Linked DNA regions of Homo sapiens: region 2 is linked to region 1. Evidence: fine-mapped expression QTL. A gene starts in region 1. The other region holds a variant in brackets. All regions are shown on one strand. Distances are between the middles of the regions. Region 1 holds the start of SH3BP2 (SH3 domain binding protein 2). Region 2 overlaps SH3BP2 (SH3 domain binding protein 2).

What was found. PIP is the estimated chance that this variant, and not a neighbour inherited with it, causes the effect.
Region 2: its variant is fine-mapped to the expression of SH3BP2 in whole blood (TOPMed, PIP above 0.99).

Annotation. Positions count from the first base shown.
Region 1 is chr4:2,787,679-2,798,274 of GRCh38, forward strand. It overlaps SH3BP2 (SH3 domain binding protein 2), which reads left to right and starts at 5,407. Exons shown (of 13, transcript NM_001122681.2): 1 at 5,407-5,460. RefSeq lists enhancers at 1-80, 204-838, 421-480 and a silencer at 5,125-5,474.
Region 2 is chr4:2,824,917-2,834,374 of GRCh38, forward strand. It overlaps SH3BP2 (SH3 domain binding protein 2), which reads left to right. Exons shown (of 13, transcript NM_001122681.2): 5 at 210-280; 6 at 2,314-2,402; 7 at 2,690-2,758; 8 at 4,577-5,231; 9 at 6,655-6,763; 10 at 7,007-7,062; 11 at 7,415-7,496; 12 at 8,074-8,133; 13 at 8,781-9,458. The coding sequence ends at 8,918. Among named protein-coding and RNA genes, the nearest start is that of ADD1, 14 kb to the right of the region's middle. RefSeq lists enhancers at 1,033-1,919, 1,920-2,805. The variant C/G (reference allele first, on the strand shown) is at 4,539.

The DNA of each region.
Region 1 (10,596 bases):
AACCTCAGAGGACAGAGCCAGCAGCTGACCTGGGCTAGAGGTGTGGCAGCCAGGCAGGCAGGGCAGGCCCTCCTGGGGAGTGCTGGTGGCCTGGGGGCGCTGGCTGGCCCTTGACCTGGCGTGAACTCTGGCTCTATTTCCCTCACTCTGCCCTCTAGCGCTGTGCCCCTGCCAGGAGAGTCCTCCCAGGTTGTGGGAGCCCAGCTCAGTCCTACTGTCCCCAAAGAGCCTTCGCCGACTTCGTCAGCCTTTACCAGCTCTCAGGCTGGCCAGGAAGCCAGGCCTGTCCCAGGCACGAGGGGCAGTGGGCAAGCTGGCTGTGGGCCCCACCCTCCACAGGCTCACTGAGGGCAGCTGGCCAGAAGCCCACAGGCTGGGGCCACCCACTGAGGATGTTTTCTGAGCAGGGCCCCGTGTTGGACCATCCTGGGGACCAGAGCCACTGGAAGAGCCCTGACCTCAAGGCGCCCCAGCCTAGGGGGTGGGATGGGGTGGTGAGGAAGGCTAGTTCTGGGCAGTGTGGTGGGATGTAGGTGCACATCTGGGCATGACTGTGGGGGTCTGGGGAGGTCCCCTGGGGTAATGCTACTGAGCTGGCTTTCCCGGGATGACGCTGGAGGGCAGTGGAGGCAGAGGGGAGGCCAGTGTGCAGGGCACTCTGGCGTGGGGTCTGGCTGAGACCTGAGCGGGCCTCCATGCTTCCACCCCTCAACCAGCACACACGTCCTACCATCCCACCCAACCTCCACTGCTCCCCCTCCAGCCCCAGGCTGCTCCTTTCCCCTTCATTCGGTAAAGGAGAAAATATTCCCCATCCCACCCAGGGCAAGGCGTGAGGCAGCCAGGCCTGGCCTGGGATGCAGAGATGGCCCAGAGCCTGGGAGGGGCCACTCCTGTCCAGCCTGCCCTCCCTGCCAGAGTGCCTGCCACCAGCCCAGCCTCCTGGGAGAGATGCCAGCCCCCAGCCCTGTCCTCAGAGCCAGACTGATGCCTGCGTGTGAGGCCCAGCCTGCCTCCTCAAACTCCTCTTCCCATGAGCCACAATCCTCCCCCACACCCCCTCTGCCCCTCCCTCCAGTGCTGGGCTGTGTGGCCAGGGGACTGGACTGTGTGGCAGGATGACTCCACACAGCCTCCCCCAGGGAGTGGGGATTGGGGGAGGTAGGGTGGGAACCTGTCCCCTCCTATCCCCAGGGAAGCAGGTGGGAAGCCTGTGGCCTTGGCCCTACTCAGGAATTGCCTCTCCTAGCGAGGCGGCCTGGTGAGGTGGTACACTGTATCACTGTGGGGCCACTCCTGGGGACAGGGACAGGTGGGAGGGCAGGGTCCATGCTTCCAAGGTCCTCTGGACACGGGACCCAGGTGGCAGCTCCAAAACCTGGCTAGGATGGGCACAGTGGCTCATGCCAGTAATCCCAGCACTTTGGGAGCTGAGGTGGGTGGATCGTTTGAGCCCAGTAGTTCGAGACCAGTCTGGGCAACATGGTGAGACGCTATTTCTACAAAAAAATAAAAAATATAAATAAATAAAAATTAGTTGGGTGTGGTGGCACATGCCTATAGTCCCAGCTGAGGTGGGAGGCTCACCTGAGCCCAGGAGGTTGAGGCTGCAGTGCCACTGCACTCCAGCCTGGGCAACAGAGTGAGACCCTATCTCAAAACAAAAGAACAAAAACAAAACCTACCTAGCCCCTTCCTTGGGGCTGCCCCTTGAGGCCTTTGTCTGTTCATTCACCAATCATGCACTGGGAGTCTATTTTGTAACTCAGGTGCCCTGGAAGCAGAGCCCAGACCAAGGGAAGCGAGGGGTCCAGGCACACCCGCCAAGGGTGATCTAGGGGCAGGAATGGCAAGTGCAAAGGCCCTGAGGTGGGAATGTGTCTGCGGTGCTGGAGGAGACAGGAGGCCAGTGTGGCCAATGCTAAGCGGGGCTATGGAGAGAGAACTCAGGGAGCAGGCAGGTGGCACAGGCTCGGTCTGGGCCCTGCCCATGCAAGGATAGAAGGCATTTGCCTTGGGGGAGGTGGGATCTACAGAAAGTTCTGAGTGAAGAAGTGACATGACCTGACTCACACTGTGACTGCACCCCTCTGGTGTGATGATGGACACTGCCAGGCAAGCGCAGGAGAGGGAGGATGAGGCAGGCAGGGGCTGAGAAAGGCAGGATTCCAGGTGTGCTTTGCCAACAGAACCTTCAGGGCGGACGGGATGTGGGGCGAGCAGAGAGGCATCAGTGCGGACGACTCCAGGGTTGCTGGCCCAGGGAAGGAAAAAGAGACTTGGCAGGCGCATGAAGCCCCCTGCTGGGACGCCTGTGACACGTAGACCAGCGGCAGATCTTGCCCTCGCCATCCTAACCGTCAGCCTCACCCTCAGCAGGTCCTGCCCTACCCCCCAGACAGCAGCTGCCTCTGCCTGTTCTGGGTCCTGCCAAATCAGTGGCATGGCCGATGGCACACGGGGGATGGGTGTGGCGGGGGACCGGCCCCCTTCTCTTTGGCCTTATTCTGTGGGTGTGATTGGGGCATCACCATGGGCTTCTACCCCGGATGTGCCCTGTGGAGGTCTGCTCCCCAGCTCCCTGCCGGCCAGGGGTCCTCGCCTTACCTCTGCTCACCTGCCCTGCATACCCTCCCAGCAGGCGAGGTCATCCTCCTCACCCATCCCTGCTCTGTCAGCCTCAGCGGAACCCCTGGGTGCCCAGAGGCTCTGGCCACAGCCTCCAGCAGCTTCTTGCTCGGAGGGGCTGCTGGGAGCTGCCCTGAGGCCCCAACTAGGAGTTCCTTCCTCCCACGCCCTGGGGTTGGACTGGTAAGGGGGGAGAAGGGGAGGAATATGAGGTGTGGGATTCTCCCCACGGTGGAGGCTGCACCCTGTTCCCCCTGTTTGGCTGAGGTGCCCTGCACAGAGGTGCTTTGCATTTCTGGGTGATCATTCTCTAGGCGCCTGGTCCGTCCACACTGTCTGCAGTGACCCTGCTCCGTCAACTCTGAGCTTGGCATCTGAGGCCAGCCCTGTACACCCTGCCCTGTAGTCAGGCCCTGGCGGGGCCGCACCGACGTTTGGCTTTGCTCCACTCCCCTCCCGGTCTCTGCCCCTTTCCCCAGCTGGTCCCCTGGGAACAGGACACTTGCTGTGACCCAATGGCATCTGCTCATTTGTCCATTTGCTCCTCTCGTGAGCCACAAGGGTAGGGACTTCCTTGTATCATCTTGGGTCCCCGGGGTCTGGTGTGGGGCCAGGCATTTATTTAGCTGAACTGGACATCAGGGACATCAAGATGTACAGCCCCAAGGTCATGAGTGTTTTGTCAGGAGCCTTAGACCAGTCTGGCCCAGCCTGGAGCTCCCTCCGCATGTGGCCTCTTACAGGAGTGACGCAGCCCCATGCGGTGCTAACAGTGGCAGCACTGAACGTCGGATGGGGCTGAGCCCAGCCACTTCCACAATGGCTGTAGTTCCTATCTCTTCCTCCCTGCTAGGAAAATGTGAAATAGCCCAGAGTGGGGGGTGGGCAGAAGAGTTGCAGGCTACCCAATGCTGGGATGAGCAGAGTTGAGACCTGGGGAGCCAGGCCCAGGACACTTACAGGTGGGGATGTGAGCAGGCACCCCAGAGAGTGAGCACCCCAGCCAGCCAGCACCCATCTACTCCCTCACTGGGGTCTAAGTTCAGCCCCGAGAGCTAGGCTGTAGGTGGGTAGAGTCACAGCCCCAGCGCCGGTGTGAGGGGTGGCCCTGGGCCAGGTAGAGTGAGTATCTGCCTGCTGTCATGCCCCATCCACTTCTGCCGCCTCCCCAGTAGAGGACCCCCTCCATTTCACAGATGGGGAAAAGGGGCCCTGTTGTCTGAAGACTCTCCCATATCCTCCCCTGCCTCTGCCATCCCCTGCTTTGTCCCTTCCCTTCCAGAGGCCCTGCCTTGGTCCTGGTCACTTCCTGGTAGGCACTGGCTCTTCCTCTATGCCTGGGCTCAGGGCCTGGCCACCTAGTTTTCTGACTCCTCCCACTTACTCCCCTCCCCAGTTAACCTCTCTGATCCCAAGTGTGTCTCTCCAGCAGGGAGGAGGGCTATTGCAGCCAGGGATCCCCTTTCTGAGGCTTGGGACCCATTATTGGGCAGCTCTGGGACAGGTGGACGGTGACTTGGCCCACACTCGGTCCAGCTGCAACCCTGAGAACCCGCTTGGTTTGGCTGTGTCTCCTGGAGGCCCTCAGGTATTTCAACCTGTAGGACCCAAACCCAGTCCTTCACCTGCTGCAGGGCCAGCCCTGGACACCCCTGCCCCTGCCTGATTTGGAGCAGCCAATTCAGCCCCTGTCATTGGACTCTGGCCTCTTGTGCTCAGTACAGAGGGTCAGACCTTGGCCGCCTGCCTGGACAGGGCCAGGTCACCACCACCCACCCCCAGCTCCCTTGGGTTCCCAGCAAGATCCTGTCCTTCCTCTACTCACAGCTTCCTGGGCTCTGGGACCTGGGGTCCAGTCCCCACTCCTCATGGGGAGGAGTCCCCCCACGCCCCAAGCAGTTGACTCCCGCACTGGTGGGGGGTCCGCTCGCCCTCAAGCTCTGCAGGCCCAGCTTGGTCTCCCCAGCCTCTTCACTTTCTCCACGGCTCCCTCCACCTACCTGGCCCTGAGAGCTCCCCAGGGAAGCCATTTCCTCCCAGGAAGCCCCTCCTCTTCTCGCCCCTGCCCTTACACCAAGGCATCTGGGCCTACTCTTAGGGAGAGGGTGATGGTGGAGGAAAGGGAGCCTCAGAGGAGGCCAAGTGTAAAGCACCCGGTCTCCTGTGCCTCCCAGCCCCAAGACGACCTCTGGGCCACCGGAGTCCAGACCTGGTCCAAGAGGCGAGGTCCCCCTGGGAAGTGCCTGAAAAGTACCCTGGAGGACATTTGGAAACAAAGACAAGGTTTCCTGGTGCCCAGCAAGCCCTCCCCCACCTCCCCTGCTCCTGTCTTGGCCAGGGCCTAAGTCGCACTCACGGGGCAGGGGTGGGGCCGCCCAGGATCAGGACCACGGGGCTGGGGGGGTGGACAGCGCCCTTTCCACCTGGGTCGCTGGGCACTGGGGTGTCACTGGGAGGGACACGCAGGAGGGACAGACACGCTACCTCACTCACGGGCGAGAACTAAGCACCTACTGTGGACCCGGCGTCTAGGCCCGCGACAACGCCAGTCTTCGCCCCCCAGGGGCCTCGTCCCGGGGCCGCGGAGGCCACGTGCAGTTCCCCGCCCACCCTGAGGTACCGGCCCCGCCCCACGCCCAGCTCGGACCTCCAGGATTGCGGGACCCGCCGGGGAGGGGCGGGGCCGGGGCGGGGCCAGGAGGAGGGCGGACTGGGCGGGCGCGGGCGGGACGGAGCTGCGGCGGCGGCGGGTCCCGCGGGCGGGAGCGCCTGGCGGCCGAGTCAAGCCGCCGCCTCGACCCAGGGCCCGCGGGCCAGGAGAGCGCTCGGCGGGTAAGCCTCGGCGGCGGGTCTCGGCGGGTCTCGGGGGTCTCGCGGGGGGGCGGTCTCCGCGTCTGGAAGGGGCTCGGCGGGCCTTGGCGGTCTGGGGGCTCTCGGCGGGTCTCGGGGGTCTCGGGGGAGTCTCGGGGTCCCGACAGGTCTCGGCGGGTCTCGGGGGTCTCGGGGGAGTCTCCGGGGAGTCTCAGGGGTCCCGGCAGGTCTTGGCAGGTCTCGGGGGAGTCTCAGGGTCCCGGCAGGTATGGGCGGGTGTCGGGGGTCTCGGGTGCGCAGCAGCCTCCCCCGGGCCCCGGGGCCTCCGTGTCCTTGCCAAAGGACGCACGGGGCCTGGGCACGGCGGGCAGTGCCCGAGGGAGCGCGGCTTCGGGGCGGGGGCCGGGTGTCCCTTGCCGGGGGCTCAGGGGTGGGAGGCGGTGCGACGCGTCTGTTTCGCACCCCTCGCGCCCCTCTGGCCCCGCGGCGGGGCCCCTTTACGCGACCCTCCCCACAAGACTCAAAGGCTGCGGCGGGCACTCGCTCTCCGCCCTTCCCGGAATCCAAACTTCCCTCTGCAGCGGCCGCGCTTCACGGAGGGCAAGAAAAGCCGCCCACTGGCGCTGATTCACACTGAAGTGTGAGTGACTGATAGCCGGGCGTCTGAGACTCTCATGGGCAACAGGGAATCTCAGGGGTGGCAGAGGGACTGGAGGAGTTAGGGGGCGGGGACAGCCCCTTCCACCTGTACGCTGGCCTCCCTGCAGCCCAGCACTTTCCCGCTGCTCTGGGCCTCGGCTCCCTGGGGGTATTGAGGGCCTGAGCCCTGCTGTGGGGAGCCTTCTGCTGGTGCTCCTTTCCGTGAGCACCTCCTATCCCCTCTCTGTGCCTCAGTTTGCTCATCTGTTGACACTGGGGACAGCTGTGCCTCCTGGTCTAGTGGCCACACTTAAGTCCTTCGAATTGGCTGTGGCCAGGGGCGGGTACTCCGTGTGGGCTGCTGGGGTGGACAGCCTGCCTGGATGACATGTGTGTGGCCTTGCAGGTGACATGGGCCGGTGATGCAATGTGTAGAATTGTTTCCACAACCGCCTGAAGGCAGGGCCCACAGCCTCCTCCTTGCCGAAGCAAGCCTCTGGGTTCAGGTCAGCCCTGCACCAACTCCATGAGCCTGGACAAGCTCCTGCCCTCACTGGCTCAGGCCCTGTGGGACCAGAGGAGGGGCTGGGCTCCACCCCCTCCTGGTTCTTCCCACTCTGTCCACTGTCTCCTCTACGTAGACACCGTCGAAGGGCCCTCTTGGAGCCCAACCTCAGGGCCCCACTCCAGGCACTCCACTCCTGGCAGGACAGGAGGCCTGGGACGAGGGCTGCAAGGGAGTGAGGATTCTGTCTATCCCCTCTCCCTGCCACCCGCCAGGCTCCCTTTGCCTGGCTCTGTGCCCTGCGTTAGGCACACCCTGGAGGGGGCAGGCAGAAGGAAGACAGATAGGCAGCCGTGTCTAGGAACTGCCAGCCAGGGCCATCTGGTGAGAGGGGTGCTGACAGGGGACCTGGCCTTTCAGGGAGTCCCCAGGCCTCCAGGATCATGGGGGAGCCCACCAAGGAGGCTGGCCTGAAGAGGCAGACAGAGGGAGGACAGGCTCTGGGCCTGCCTTGGCCCTTTCTGCCCACATGGACAGAGGAAGCAGGGTGCTGAGTCAGCTGGAGCTCCCCACCCCCCAGGGATGCACGCACACAAGCAGGCCCACAGACGGGAAGTCCAGGGGCCCAGAGAGACGAGATGGCCAGCCTTGGTTCCTGAGGGGCAGGGAGGAAGGGCGCAAACTCAGCCAGGATCTTGGGTGTGAACTCAGATGCCACCAGTTTCCAGCTGTGTGATCATGGCCAGGAGGCTTCCCCCTGCCACCCCTCCGTTTTCTCATCCATGACCTGAGGGCTGTGAAGCACTTTGTACCTGGTGGGTGGCTATGAGTGTCCGTAGGGGGGATGGTGGTGGTGGTGACATGTGCTTGGTATTCAGTGACAGTGGGTCGCTGAGGGTGCTCTCCCTGGTCCTCAGGGCCGCTGTATGTCCTGTTTTGGGTGGGGGCAGGGACTGGCCTGGAGAGGCCTGGGTAAAGGCCAAGGCTCCCAGGTTCCTGCCCACATTGGACTAAGGCCTGAGTCCATCAGGAGTGGCCAGTGTTGGGCAGCCCCTGGGTCTTCCTGCGTTCTGTCCTCAAAAGCTCCCTTGTGGGGACACCCCAGGTCAGTGACTATGTGTGGCAGGCTCTGCCCTCCTCACTCTCTGTCCTCTCTTGACCTCATGATCTGCCCACCTCCCAAAGTGCTGGGATTACAGGCGTGAGCCCCCACGCCTGGCAGAGTATATAGTTCTTTAATAACCGGGTGGCTTGGCCATCACTGTGCAGCCTGGGTGGGTGAGGAGAAGGGCAGGCTGGCGGGGAAAAGACGGGGAATTTGCCACAAGGTGAGAGCTGTCCTACCCCAGACGCAGTGGAGCGGCTCCCACCCCTCGGGCCAATGAATACAGGGTGGGCCGTCAGGAGGAGGGATCTGAGCCGGGCGGGCAGCCATGCAGGTACAGACAGACTAAGCCAAAGGCGGGCGGTAGGGAGGGTGGGAGACCAGTTTGACGGGAGTGGCCTTTGCATGCCAGGTGTGGTGAGGGTATGGAGGGGCCTGGGAGGCAAGGAGAAGGGGCCGTGCAGACCCTGGAATCCTTCCTCCAGGATAGGCGGCTCCTCCCCAGAAGGCCTCTGCATTCTTCTGGTGGCCCTGTCTGGACACCGAGGGGCTGGAGACAGTCCCACGTGTGGGCTGCCTAAGTCCCAGAGGGGGTGGTAGGGAGCATTTCAGGCTCACTGGCTGGCCCCCTTCCCTGGGGCACTGGACCCTCCTCACCACCCCTTGGCCTGTGCACGGGAGGGTAGACAGGATGGTGCCAAGAGCAAGGGACTGGCCCTCAGCCACGGGCCAGGAGACCTGAGCCTTGTAGGCGAATTGCACTTCCTGACCCTCAGTTTCCTGATCTGCAAAACGGGATGACAGAAGTCCCTGGCTCTGGACCACGCTGCTGGATTTGGGTTCCGTGCCGGGCCCCTGACTACACTCATCCTTCAAGGGTGACGCGAGAGAAGCACGTGCCCAGGTTCGGGGCGGGTGGAGACCTGGGTCAGACAGGAGTTCGAGGTGGTGCAGGCTCCCAGGAGGGGAGAAAGGTGCCCTCCCCCAACCTTCTCTCTTCTCCCCAGGCTCTGTAACTTCCAAGGCCATGAGAGTGGTCAGGCCCTGCTTGGTTTCCCGGCCCCCGATCACAGATCGTGCTGGAACTGCTGGCCCCAACGCCCTGAGGTGACTGGCCCTTTCTTCATGGATTCCGGTCACATCTGGTCCATCTTTGTCAGCTGGCCTCTGGGAAGAATGTGGGCTCGGCCACCTGGAGCAGTTGCCTGGGGAGATCAGAGGAGCCCTGAGGGGTTGGCAGAGCGCCCTCGTGGTATCCATACCCCCATCCCTGTAGCTGAGCTGATTCCAAGAAGTGCCCTCTGCTTCCTTGTGAATCAGATGTTTACTGCGCTCCTGCTGAGCCTGCTCCAGGCAGCTGGGTGGGGCGTAGGGTGCCTGTCTGCTCAAGCCTGCAGAGGGAGGCCAGCTCCCCACCCCAGGGTCAGCCAGGCTGGCAGGCAACAGCCTCAAGAAGGCAGTGTGCGTGCCATGGCACACGGGGCTGAGGCCGCGAGGCAGGGGCCGAGGGAAGCGGCACAGAGCTTCTCTCAGGCACCAGAGGGGAGCTGAGTTCTGGGCTCAGAGCAGGCTTCGTCTGAGGGCTTCAGCGTCCTCCTTGTGAAATGGGGTGAAAGTAGGTCTAACTCATGGGAGGCCAGATCCCCAGGCCCGAGCTAGGGCCTCCCTGCCCTTGACACTGTGTGAATGGGCAGCTCCGTTTGGGGGAGTTCCTTCAGCCTCGATCCAGGGGTGTTGTAATCTAGTGATGCTCTTCTGTGGCATTTGAGGGTCCTGGGTCCCCATGCCCTGCAGCCCTGTCCACTGTCCTGAGCTAGGCATAGGGGTGGGCCCTTGCTGCTGGCTGCCCCTGGACAAGGTGGGAAGGGATCAGGGGTCATTCTGGGAGCCTGGAATGCTGGGCGGTCCTTGGCTTTTTCTCAGCCTTGGGAGTCTGGGGCAGTGGTGCGCCTTTACCACCCACCCTGGTTTCTGCCTCTGGGGCAGTGGTGGACCTCCTTCAGAAGGCTGCTGCCCAGCCCCGGGCCCCACTCATGCAACACTGGGTGCCTGTGTACTGGGCCCTGGGCTAGGCATGCACTGCAAGAGCAGACAGGCCACAGGTCAGAGGGCAGGACCGCTGGCAGGTGCCCATGGGTAGCAGCTCACCTGCCTGGCCCACCTTGCCACTCTCTCCCTTAGAAGCAATTTCAGCTGAAGACATAAGTGTCTGTCCTGCTTGGTGCTCAGGGTACCCTCCCTGGCCACCCCCAACTCCACCCTGAGCTGGGTGCCTTCCTGAGCCCCCAGCCTGGTCTATGGCCACCATGCATGTTGACCCATCCATGGTGACCTGTCCGCCTGCCCCTCCTGCTTGGGAACTCAGGAAGGTCAGGGTCGCGTCTGAGAGCCCATGCCCTGGTGGTGCCCACGTGGGCCTGTCCCAGAGGAAGGGTGAGGGGAGTGCCGGCTCTCCCAGCCTCCCACTCCTGGGCAGGGAAGTGGCGCGGGCAACGGGCGGGCTGTGCCAAGCTCTTTGAAGGTGGCTTGTCACTCCCCCCACCTGTGTTTAACTCTACTGAGCATCAGAGCCTAATGTGCCAGTCAGCCTGGCAGCTGCCGCCCAGTTGGTGGAGTTTCCAATCAGATAATATCAGACTGTTGTGCTTTGGTCTCCCACGAAACTCTTCAGGTTTCCATCACAGCCTCCTCCCTTCCCCCTGCGGGCTGCGCTGTGACAGCCACCGCTGCCTGCCACCCGGCAGCAGGGACCCAGCTGCTTCTGGGCCTGGTCTCGGTGGCCCTGGCAGCGGTAGATAGGGAGGACCAAAGCCTGGTGAGGAAGAGCCGCCGAGCGGAGTCGGTGTCCCCTGTCCTCTCCCTGAACGAAAGTGCTTTCTTTCTCTGTAGCTGCTCTTCCTAAACGTGT
Region 2 (9,458 bases), 37 kb after region 1:
GCCTGGTGCCAGCGCCCACACAAGGAACATGCTGTCCTGGGAGGTGCCCCTGTGGGCTGAGGGGAGCCACACAGCCATGTTGTATCCAGCCGGGTCGCCTCCTCTGACCTTGGGAGTCACAGCAGAGCAGGCAGGGCAGTGAAGGTGGAGGGGTGCGGTGGGGCCCACCCTGGTGGCACCGTGCCCACCACAGCCCCGCTGACCTGCAGAGCTGGATGGCCTTGCTGCGCAGGGAGATTGGCCACTTCCACGAAAAGAAAGACCTGCCCTTGGACACCAGGTGAGCCCGGGCCCAGGGCATACCGGGCAGTGAGGGTCCCTGGGGCGCCTGGGCCTGACCCGGGTGTCCGCCTCCCAGCCCCGGGCTTGGCATAGAATTCCGTCCTTAAAGGTTTCCTGGAGGTGCCAGCTGGGCTGCGTCTCTCTGCTCCTGTCTACAGATAAACACAGATACAGGACAAGCACAGATGTTCACACACAGACGAGCGACACGCGGACACGCACACACAAACACAAGCAACACGCGGACATGCACACACACAGAGCAACACGTGGACATGCGCACACACACAGAGCAACACGTGGACATGCACACACACACAGCAACACGTGGACATGCACACACACACAGCAACACGCAGACATGCACACACAAACACAGAGCAACACACAGACATGCACACACACACAGAGCATGCACAGGTGTGCATGCATCTCTCTGCTCCTGTCTACCTCCAGCCCCATCTGTCACATCTGTTTCTGTGTTGCCGCCATGGGTAGTTCCTGTTAGGGGATCATGTGTGTTTATACGCCTGCCACCAGGGAGGCCTGGCATGGCAGCAGCTGGGCACTTTGGGTTCCCAGCCCCCTACGCCCACCCTGGCTCACTCAGAGTGAGACCAGAATGATTCTCCTGGCGGGGCGCCACTGGGCAGTCTGAGCCTTGGCAGCCTCCCCCGTGAGCTGGCCCGACGTGCAGCAGATACTCTCTGGATTGGGACTTCCTGGCCCGAGACGATGTGGAGGGAACAAACCTTCCTGTCCTTTCACAGGTGGGGACAGGAGGCCCAGGGAGGGCTGGGCACAGCCAAGGCTGCCCTGCAGGTCCCTGCCTGACTCCGGGCTCCCGTCCCCTGGTCCAAGCTGTTCAGCCTCGGGCCCAGCCCAGAGTCGCCCAAGCCCTCTTGAGGCAGGAGCAGGTGGAGACGTGGGCACAGTCAGGGCGGCCATCCTTGTGGGCCAGAAGGGGCACCTAGTGGAGGCACCACAGCCTCCAGTTCTTCTGTCTGTCCTTGTAACTGTGTGTGCATGTCCGCGTGTTGCTCCGTGTGTGTGCATGTCCGCGTGTTGCTCTGTGTGTGTGCATGTCCGCGTGTTGCTCTGTGTGTGTGTGTGCAATGTCCACGTGTTGCTCTGTGTTTGTGTGTGCATGTCTGCGTGTTGCTCTGTGTTTGTGTGTGCATGTCCGCGTGTTGCTCTGTGTGTGTGCATGTCCACGTGTTGCTCTGTGTTTGTGTGTGCATGTCCGCGTGTTGCTCTGTGTGTGTGCATGTCCGCGTGTTGCTGTTTGTGTGTGCATGTCTGCGTGTTGCTCTGTGTGTGTGTGCATGTCCGCGTGTTGCTCTGTGTGTGTGTGTGTGCATGTCTGCATGTTGCTCTGTGTGTGTGTGCATGTCTGTGTGTTGCTCTGTGTTTGTGTGTGCATGTCTGCGTGTTGCTCTGTGTGTGTGTGCATGTCCACGTGTTGCTCTGTGTGTGTGCATGTCCTCATGTTGCTCTGTGTGTGTGTGCATGTCCGCATGTTGCTCTGTGTGTGTGCATGTCCGCGTGTTGCTTGTGTTTGTGTGTGCGTGTCCGTGTGTCGCTCGTCTGTGTGTGAACATGTGTGCTTGTCCTGTATCTGTGTTTATCTGTATACTTCCATGTCTGTGTGACAGAGTCCTTGTGTCTGTGTGTCTACATGTCTGCGCGTGTCCCTGTGTCTTTGTGTATATATATCCATGCCTGTGTGCCTGTGTTCCTGCGTGTGCTTGTGTGTGCACGTGTGCATTTGTGTGTTTGTCAGAGTATGTGTGCATGTGTGTGTCTGTCAGCGTATCCATGTGTGCATGTGTGTGTCTGTCAGCGTATCCGTGTGTGCATGTGTGTGTCTGTCAGCTTAACCATGTGTGCATGTGTTTGTCAGTGTATCCGTGTGTGCATCTGTGTATCTGTCCATGTATCCGCGTGTGCCTGTGTGTACCTTTGTGTGAGCATCAAGGGACCTCCCAGGCCTGGTGCTCACCGTCCGCCCCAACGCACCCTGCATTGCAGCGACTCCAGCTCGGACACAGACAGCTTCTACGGCGCAGTTGAGCGGCCTGTGGATATCAGCCTTTCCCCGTACCCCACGGACAATGAAGGTGAGGTCTTTCTCCGCATCCACTGCCCGTTTGCCTCTCCCCACCTGGCCTCCTCTTGGCCGCTGTGGAGGAGAGGGAGGTGTGTTCGGCTGTGCTCCTTGCTCTGGCCCTTTGGCAGTGCGCAGTAGCATCCCTGGGCTCTGGCCTTCAGCGGCAGGGTCTGGACTCACAGTCCTCCCAGCAGGTGCTTGCCCCTTGCCTCCTGGACTCAGCCCCATGCATGGAGCATTGCTCGGAGACTGGGCCTGGGCCGGTTTGGCTCTCACCACCCCCCTCTCCCCATGCAGACTATGAGCACGACGATGAGGATGACTCCTACCTGGAGCCTGACTCCCCGGAGCCCGGAAGGCTTGAGGGTAGGTGGGGCGGGTGGGCCCGGGGAGCTCTGGGTGTGTAGGAAGCAGGGGCTGGGACCGGGAGCAGAGCCCCTCCGAGGCTGGGGATGCTGGCCCAGGTACCGCTCTGGGTGGCTTCCGCTTCCCTGCTGTGTCCCAAGTATTATGAGGATTGGAGCAGAAGAGGTGTAGCTGCTGCCACCTCTGCTCATTTCCTCCTCCCACCTCCCAGGAGGAGGGACAGGCACATGGCGATAAGTGGCAGGTGGAGCCGGGGTGGCCCTGGGGGTTAAGCATGGGGAAGGAAGGACGCTGAGGAGCGCGCAGGCTCAGGGCAGGTCCATGTCCCCATGGCTGCCAGCTTGTGTGGACACTGCTGCAGGCCAGGTCGTTGTCCCACCCCACCCCATCCCATCCCAGTGTCCACCTACCTCCTGCAGCACATGGCCTAGTCAAAGAGACAGGCTGATACAGGTGGTCACACGTGGATGACGGAAGCACGAGCTGGGTGGGGAGGACGTGTCTCTGTCCTCCTCTGTCGCCTCCCTCCCTTCCTCCCTCCCTATTGTCTCTCCAGCCCCCTCATCTTGTCAATTTCCTCATGTCTGGGGCTGATCCTTGATCCTTCCATTTTCCCTGCGTCCGCCCTGCCTCCTTGTTTTCCAGCCTCCTGTTCTCACTGACTTGGCCTCTGCCGACCCCAGCCCCTGACCCCGTATCCTCTCTGCCTCCCATCCACTCCCACCTTCAGGCTCCCGGGTCCAGCCCCTCTTCTCCTGCCGCTCCCTCCCTCCTTCCCTCTGGGGTCCCAGTGCCAACAGTCCTTCAGCCCACGAGGGTCTGCGGGCCGCTTGCCTCAGTTTCCTTCCATGCAGAGCTCTTGTCTCACAGTGTTCACCATGCCTGTCCCTTCGCCCACACACTACTGCCTTCCGTCTTAGCCTGGCTGGCCAAGCCTTGGTGAACTCAGACTCCGTCTGCCCAGCCCTGAGCTGCAGCCCAGTGAGGCTAGAGATGGGCCTGGGGAGCCACCAGTGCTCCTGCATGCTACTGCTCCACTCACCCTCCCTCTGTACCCCCTTCATCCTCTCCCCGAGACATTTCTCGTCCAGGACGCCTGTGGCCTCCCCATTCCCAGTTCCAGCGCTCAGTCCTGAGCCACACCAGCCTGGCGCCTGCCCTGTTCCTTGCCAGCCCGTCCTCCAGGCGCCCCGTGCTCCCGGGGTCCTCTTTCTCCTCAGCTCCTGTGCTGGCCCCATGAGGGATACCCGGGACTCAGACCTCACTCCTCTCCCGAATTCCCTGGGTGACAGCCTGGGTCATCTGCAGGCTGCCCGCTCCGAGTCATGTCCAGCCTGGATTTTTGAACTCTGCACACATTCCCTGACCCCGCATCCCCTGGCATCTCCCAGCTTTCTGGATATGTTCTGAGCAAACACGGGCCTTCACCTTCCTCCCAGCTGCTCCCCTCCCCTGTCCTTGGGAATTCCGTCCTCCCTCTCGCTCCAGCCGAGCCCTGAGATCCTTCTTGACTTCTCTTCCTTTCTCTTCCTTCCACCTCTGGGAACCTGATGGGCTCCTCAGGTGTCCTCTAGGCTTCAGGAAGCGTCCACAGGCTGCCATAGGGAGGATGAATGGGGAAGGCTGGGGGTGGTGGGTGGTCTGGGACCCTGGGGAAGGCAGGATGGGAGTGCTGGGTGCTGGGCTGCTGGGTGGGCAGGCTGTGGGGTGGGCCTACCATGGGTTGCACTCCTGGTTGGCCTGGCTGACCACTGCCAGCAGAGGATAGTGTTGGCCCAGT[C/G]TCTGTCAGGGTCCAACCCGGGTCTCTTTGCTCTGCAGATGCCCTGATGCACCCACCGGCTTACCCACCACCCCCAGTGCCCACGCCCAGGAAGCCAGCCTTCTCTGACATGCCCCGGGCCCACTCCTTTACCTCCAAGGGCCCCGGTCCCCTACTGCCACCCCCGCCCCCTAAGCACGGCCTCCCAGATGTTGGCCTGGCTGCTGAGGACTCCAAGAGGGACCCACTGTGCCCGAGGCGGGCTGAGCCTTGCCCCAGGGTACCTGCTACCCCCCGAAGGATGAGCGATCCCCCTCTGAGCACCATGCCCACCGCACCCGGCCTCCGGAAACCCCCTTGCTTCCGGGAGAGTGCCAGCCCCAGCCCGGAGCCCTGGACCCCTGGCCACGGGGCCTGCTCCACTTCCAGTGCTGCCATCATGGCCACTGCCACCTCCAGAAACTGTGACAAACTCAAGTCCTTCCACCTGTCCCCCCGAGGACCACCCACATCTGAGCCCCCACCTGTGCCAGCCAACAAGCCCAAGTTCCTGAAGATAGCTGAAGAGGACCCCCCAAGGGAGGCAGCCATGCCCGGACTCTTTGTGCCCCCCGTGGCTCCCCGGCCTCCTGCGCTGAAGCTGCCAGTGCCTGAGGCCATGGCGCGGCCCGCAGTCCTGCCCAGGCCAGAGAAGCCGCAGCTCCCGCACCTCCAGTGAGTTTGTGTGGCGGCTGCAAGCCCTGCCTCCAGCTACAGGGACCCTGGCCTGGCCTCTGACGGGCACTCTGCCCACCTCGCTCCCCTGGCACTCTTAGCCCACGACGGGGTACCAGGTGCAAGGGTAGGAAGGTTCCCGGTTGCCTCCAGTCCGCCTTGGTGGAACGTGGAGCATGTCCATGACTCAGCCCTGAAGCTTGCTGGAAATGCTTTGTTTTTTTTTCTTTTTGAGACAGGGTCTCACGCTGGCAACCAAGCTGGAGTGCAGTGGTGCGATCTCAGCTCACTGCAACCTCCACCTCCGGGGTTCAGGTGATTCTCCTGCCTCAGCCTCCCAAGTAGCTGGGACTACAGGCACCTGCCAACACGCCCGGCTAATTTTTGTATTTTTAGTAGAGACAGGGGTTTCACTATGTTGGCCAGGTTGGTCTTGAACTCCTGGTCTCAAGTGATCCGCCTGCCTCGGCCTCTCAAAGTGTAGAGATTACGGGCGTGAGCCACCGCGTCCTGCTGAAATGCTTTCTGCTTTATTTCTGGGAAGTGCCAGGAGACCAGTTTGTCCCCCACTCCCACAGAGTTACGCCAATGGCTGTGGTCAAAGGCATCTGGGACCCCAGGTGGGCTTCCTGCCTTGCCTGGCAGGCAAAGGGTCCAGGAACTGGAGGGGCAGGTTTCGCATGGGTGTGCTGGCCGGCACGCGCACCCCCGAATGCCCTTGCCCACGGTGCCCTTCTCCCAGGGCTCTGCGAACACCTCTGAGATGCCTGCTGCCTGTGTGGAAGTGCCTCTGAGCAGCCCTTGTCACACTCGTGGTTCTAGTTCACCAAGGGCTGCAGAGATGCAGATGTTCGGAAGTCACGTTTTTCCATGACTGTGGGGATAGCGGTTCCAGGGCTCAGCCTCACCCACAGGCTGGCCTCCCATGCTGGCGTGGCCCGTTAATCCTCCCTAGAGCCTTTGAGGCTTTGCTGAGCAGGACCGGCTAGCCACACAGGGAGGCGTGCAGGGACGCCATGGGCGTCCTTTGGGGTCACACTGCATTGTTCATCCAGTTCACGTCCACTCCCCTGTGGCTCTGAGTGGGCTGTGATTTGGCCATGACCGGACCTCCCCTCCCCACGAGCATCCAGAGCACTTGTTGACGGTGTGATGACACTGAGCTTGGGAACCCTGGACTCCCTTGCCAGCATCCATGGCAGCCCTGACCCCTGACTCCGGTGTCGGGCGATTCCTGCTGTCCCAGGGCAGTCGGCACGAGCCCTACCCGGATCTCTGTTGTCCTGAGCTTTTTAGGGTCACAGGGGCCATAGCAGGCAGCTTGCCGTCCTCACACAGAGGGTGGAGTGGGGAGGGGAGCAGAGGGTGGCCGCCCCGTGTCTGACAGTGAAATGGTCCTGCCTTCCTCTCCCTGCCCCTCCAGGCGATCACCCCCCGATGGGCAGAGTTTCAGGAGCTTCTCCTTTGAAAAGCCCCGGCAACCCTCACAGGCTGACACTGGCGGGGACGACTCGGACGAGGACTATGAGAAGGCAAGGCTGAGCGGCAAGCCTGGGTCCCAGTGGCCAGTAGGTGGACAGGTGGTGGGAAAGCCATAGGCCAGGGCGGCCCCTCACAGACCGTCCTGAGCAAGGACCCCCCGAGAACCCGGGAGCCTAGGGGGACACAGCACCATGTAAAGCCCCGGATCCCGGCACCGGGTGGCCACCGTCCGGGGAGTGGTGGTGCGGGTGGATCACTCCGACGTTGGCACTGACACCGTCAGCCTCTTGCAGGTGCCACTGCCCAACTCGGTCTTCGTCAACACCACGGAGTCCTGCGAAGTGGAAAGGTCAGCACAAAGCCCTGTGTGTGCTGGGTCCTCCGCCATGCCCGGCTTCCTGCTTCTGTGTCCCTCTCACTAGCTTCCGTGTTGGGGAGTTGCTGGCACAAGTTCATGGCCCTGCGTGCAGCAGAAACCAGAGGAGTGGACCTCCCTGCTCTGTCCCATGCCCAGCTGGCACCCTGGCTGGCCAGGGCTCTGCTGGGCTGCTTCTGTCAGCCTCACGGCAGCCCGACGTGCTCAGCTCCTGAGACCTACAACAGCGAGAGGACAGAAAGCCAGGCTTGGGAGCGGGGCGGGAAGGTCCGTGTGAAAGCTGCCCGAGGAGGACTCACCCGCTAATATGACTGTCTTATTTTAGGTTGTTCAAGGCTACAAGCCCCCGGGGAGAGCCCCAGGATGGACTCTACTGCATCCGGAACTCCTCTACCAAGTCGGGGAAGGTAGGCGCCAGGGGAAGATGCCCCAGGGCCCCTCTGGCTCTCCACACACCCAGGCTGTGGGTGGGCCCAGGACTCCACAGTTCCTAAACCACTCCCCTTGTGGACTCTTACTTGGTGTCTCAGCTGAATTCTCTTCCCAGCAGCACCCCCCAATCTATTCCCTAATAGATCTCCATCTGCAAATTGGGGGCCATGATGGCCACCTCCCAGTGGGGGCCAGGACTCGGGTGGGGTAGGGCTCATGCTCTGGGGTGGCGGAGGCCACATGGGGCAGGGGAACGCCAGGTCTGCCCGTGTCCCTCCGAGCGTGAAGTTGTGACCTCACTGAGCCATGCTCTCCCGGGTGTGTCGGAGTGGTTATTGGTGGTTATGAGCTGTTGCTCATCAGAGGCTCTCTGAGGGCTGCCAGTGTCGCCCCCGCTGTCCTTGTGCAGGTGGTCTGGAGTCCCTCCCCGCCCCCCGAGGGCCACAGGACCCAGCCTTGATGGTTCTGCCCCCCTATCCCCAGCCCATGGTCTCCCGAGGCTGGTCCCGCTGTTTCTCAGGGAGCCGTCAGCCTCCCGCTTCCGTCCTGTAGGTCCTGGTTGTGTGGGACGAAACCTCTAACAAAGTGAGGAACTATCGCATTTTTGAGAAGGTGAGAGGGCTCTGAGTGGGACGGGGACCCTGGCCGCATGGCCTGGCAAGGGGCAGGGCAGAATCTCCCTGATGAGGCATAGGCAGCGGGTAGACTGAGACTGGCACCTCCAGGATACCGCCCTCCCCTTCCCCTCCACCATCGCTCACCCCCCACCCCTCCTGCTCAGCCTCCCTCCTCTCGTGGCCTACCTTTGTCCTCCACTGACCCTAGTGGGGATGGGCGGTCAGCCATAGACCCTGGGTTGCTTGTCTTGTCTTTTTCTTTTTGCGGGGACAGGGGTCTCACTGTCTTTCTCAGGCTGGTTTCAAATTCTGGGGCTCAAGCAATCCTCCCACCTCGGCCTCCCACAGTGCTGGGATTACAGGCGTGGGCCACCGTGCCTGGCCTAGGTTCATTTCCTGACCTTGTCTGAAGTGCTCTGGGTGCAGGCTCCTGGACATGGAGGACGGAGGGGAAGTGAGGTGGGAACATGGAGAGCACAGGCCTGATGCGGAGGCCACCTTGGGGGCACCACCGACAGCCAGGGGCCAGCCTGGTGATGCCGCTGTTGATGCTGCTGCCTTGTTTTACAGACGGGGAGACTGAGGCCTAGAGCCGCAGAGTGGCCTGGCCCTGCTGACGCTCCCCCTTCTCTTCCCCCACAGGACTCTAAGTTCTACCTGGAGGGCGAGGTCCTGTTTGTGAGTGTGGGCAGCATGGTGGAGCACTACCACACCCACGTGCTGCCCAGCCACCAGAGCCTGCTGCTGCGGCACCCCTACGGCTACACTGGGCCTAGGTGATGGCAGTCCATGTGGCTGCCAGGCCAAGGCAGTCACAGGGGCCCTGACCCCAGGCCACACAGACGGACATGGGCCCACATGGGAGGGTGAGCAGGAGCAAGGCTGTGCTTGCCTAGGGCCTCTGTGATGGACATCTCGTAGGACCCAGCCAGTCTCATCCAGCAGGTTGGGTTCTAGGGCTGAACCAGGCGCCAGGCTCCAGAGGACGAAGGGACTCTGTTGCCCCACACTAACTTGCCCTGTCCCAATCCCAGAAACCCAGGACCAAGCTGTGCCTGGGCTCCAAGGACAGGAACACTGGTCCCCCCATCACACTCACCCCTAAGTGGGCTGGGAGCCAGGCAGGGCCAGGGCAGCTGGGTGGGGGCCGGGGCTGGCCCTGGGACCCCCAGGAACGCTAAGACACAGGCTCCAGTAGGGGCTGTTGCCTCCAATAAAGCAGCAGTGAGCTTTGCCTTGGTGGCTGGGGCTTGATTGGGAAGGAGGGGATTACCAGCTTACTGGGTGCCCATGCTGATGTCTAAGTGGTGACCGCAGCAG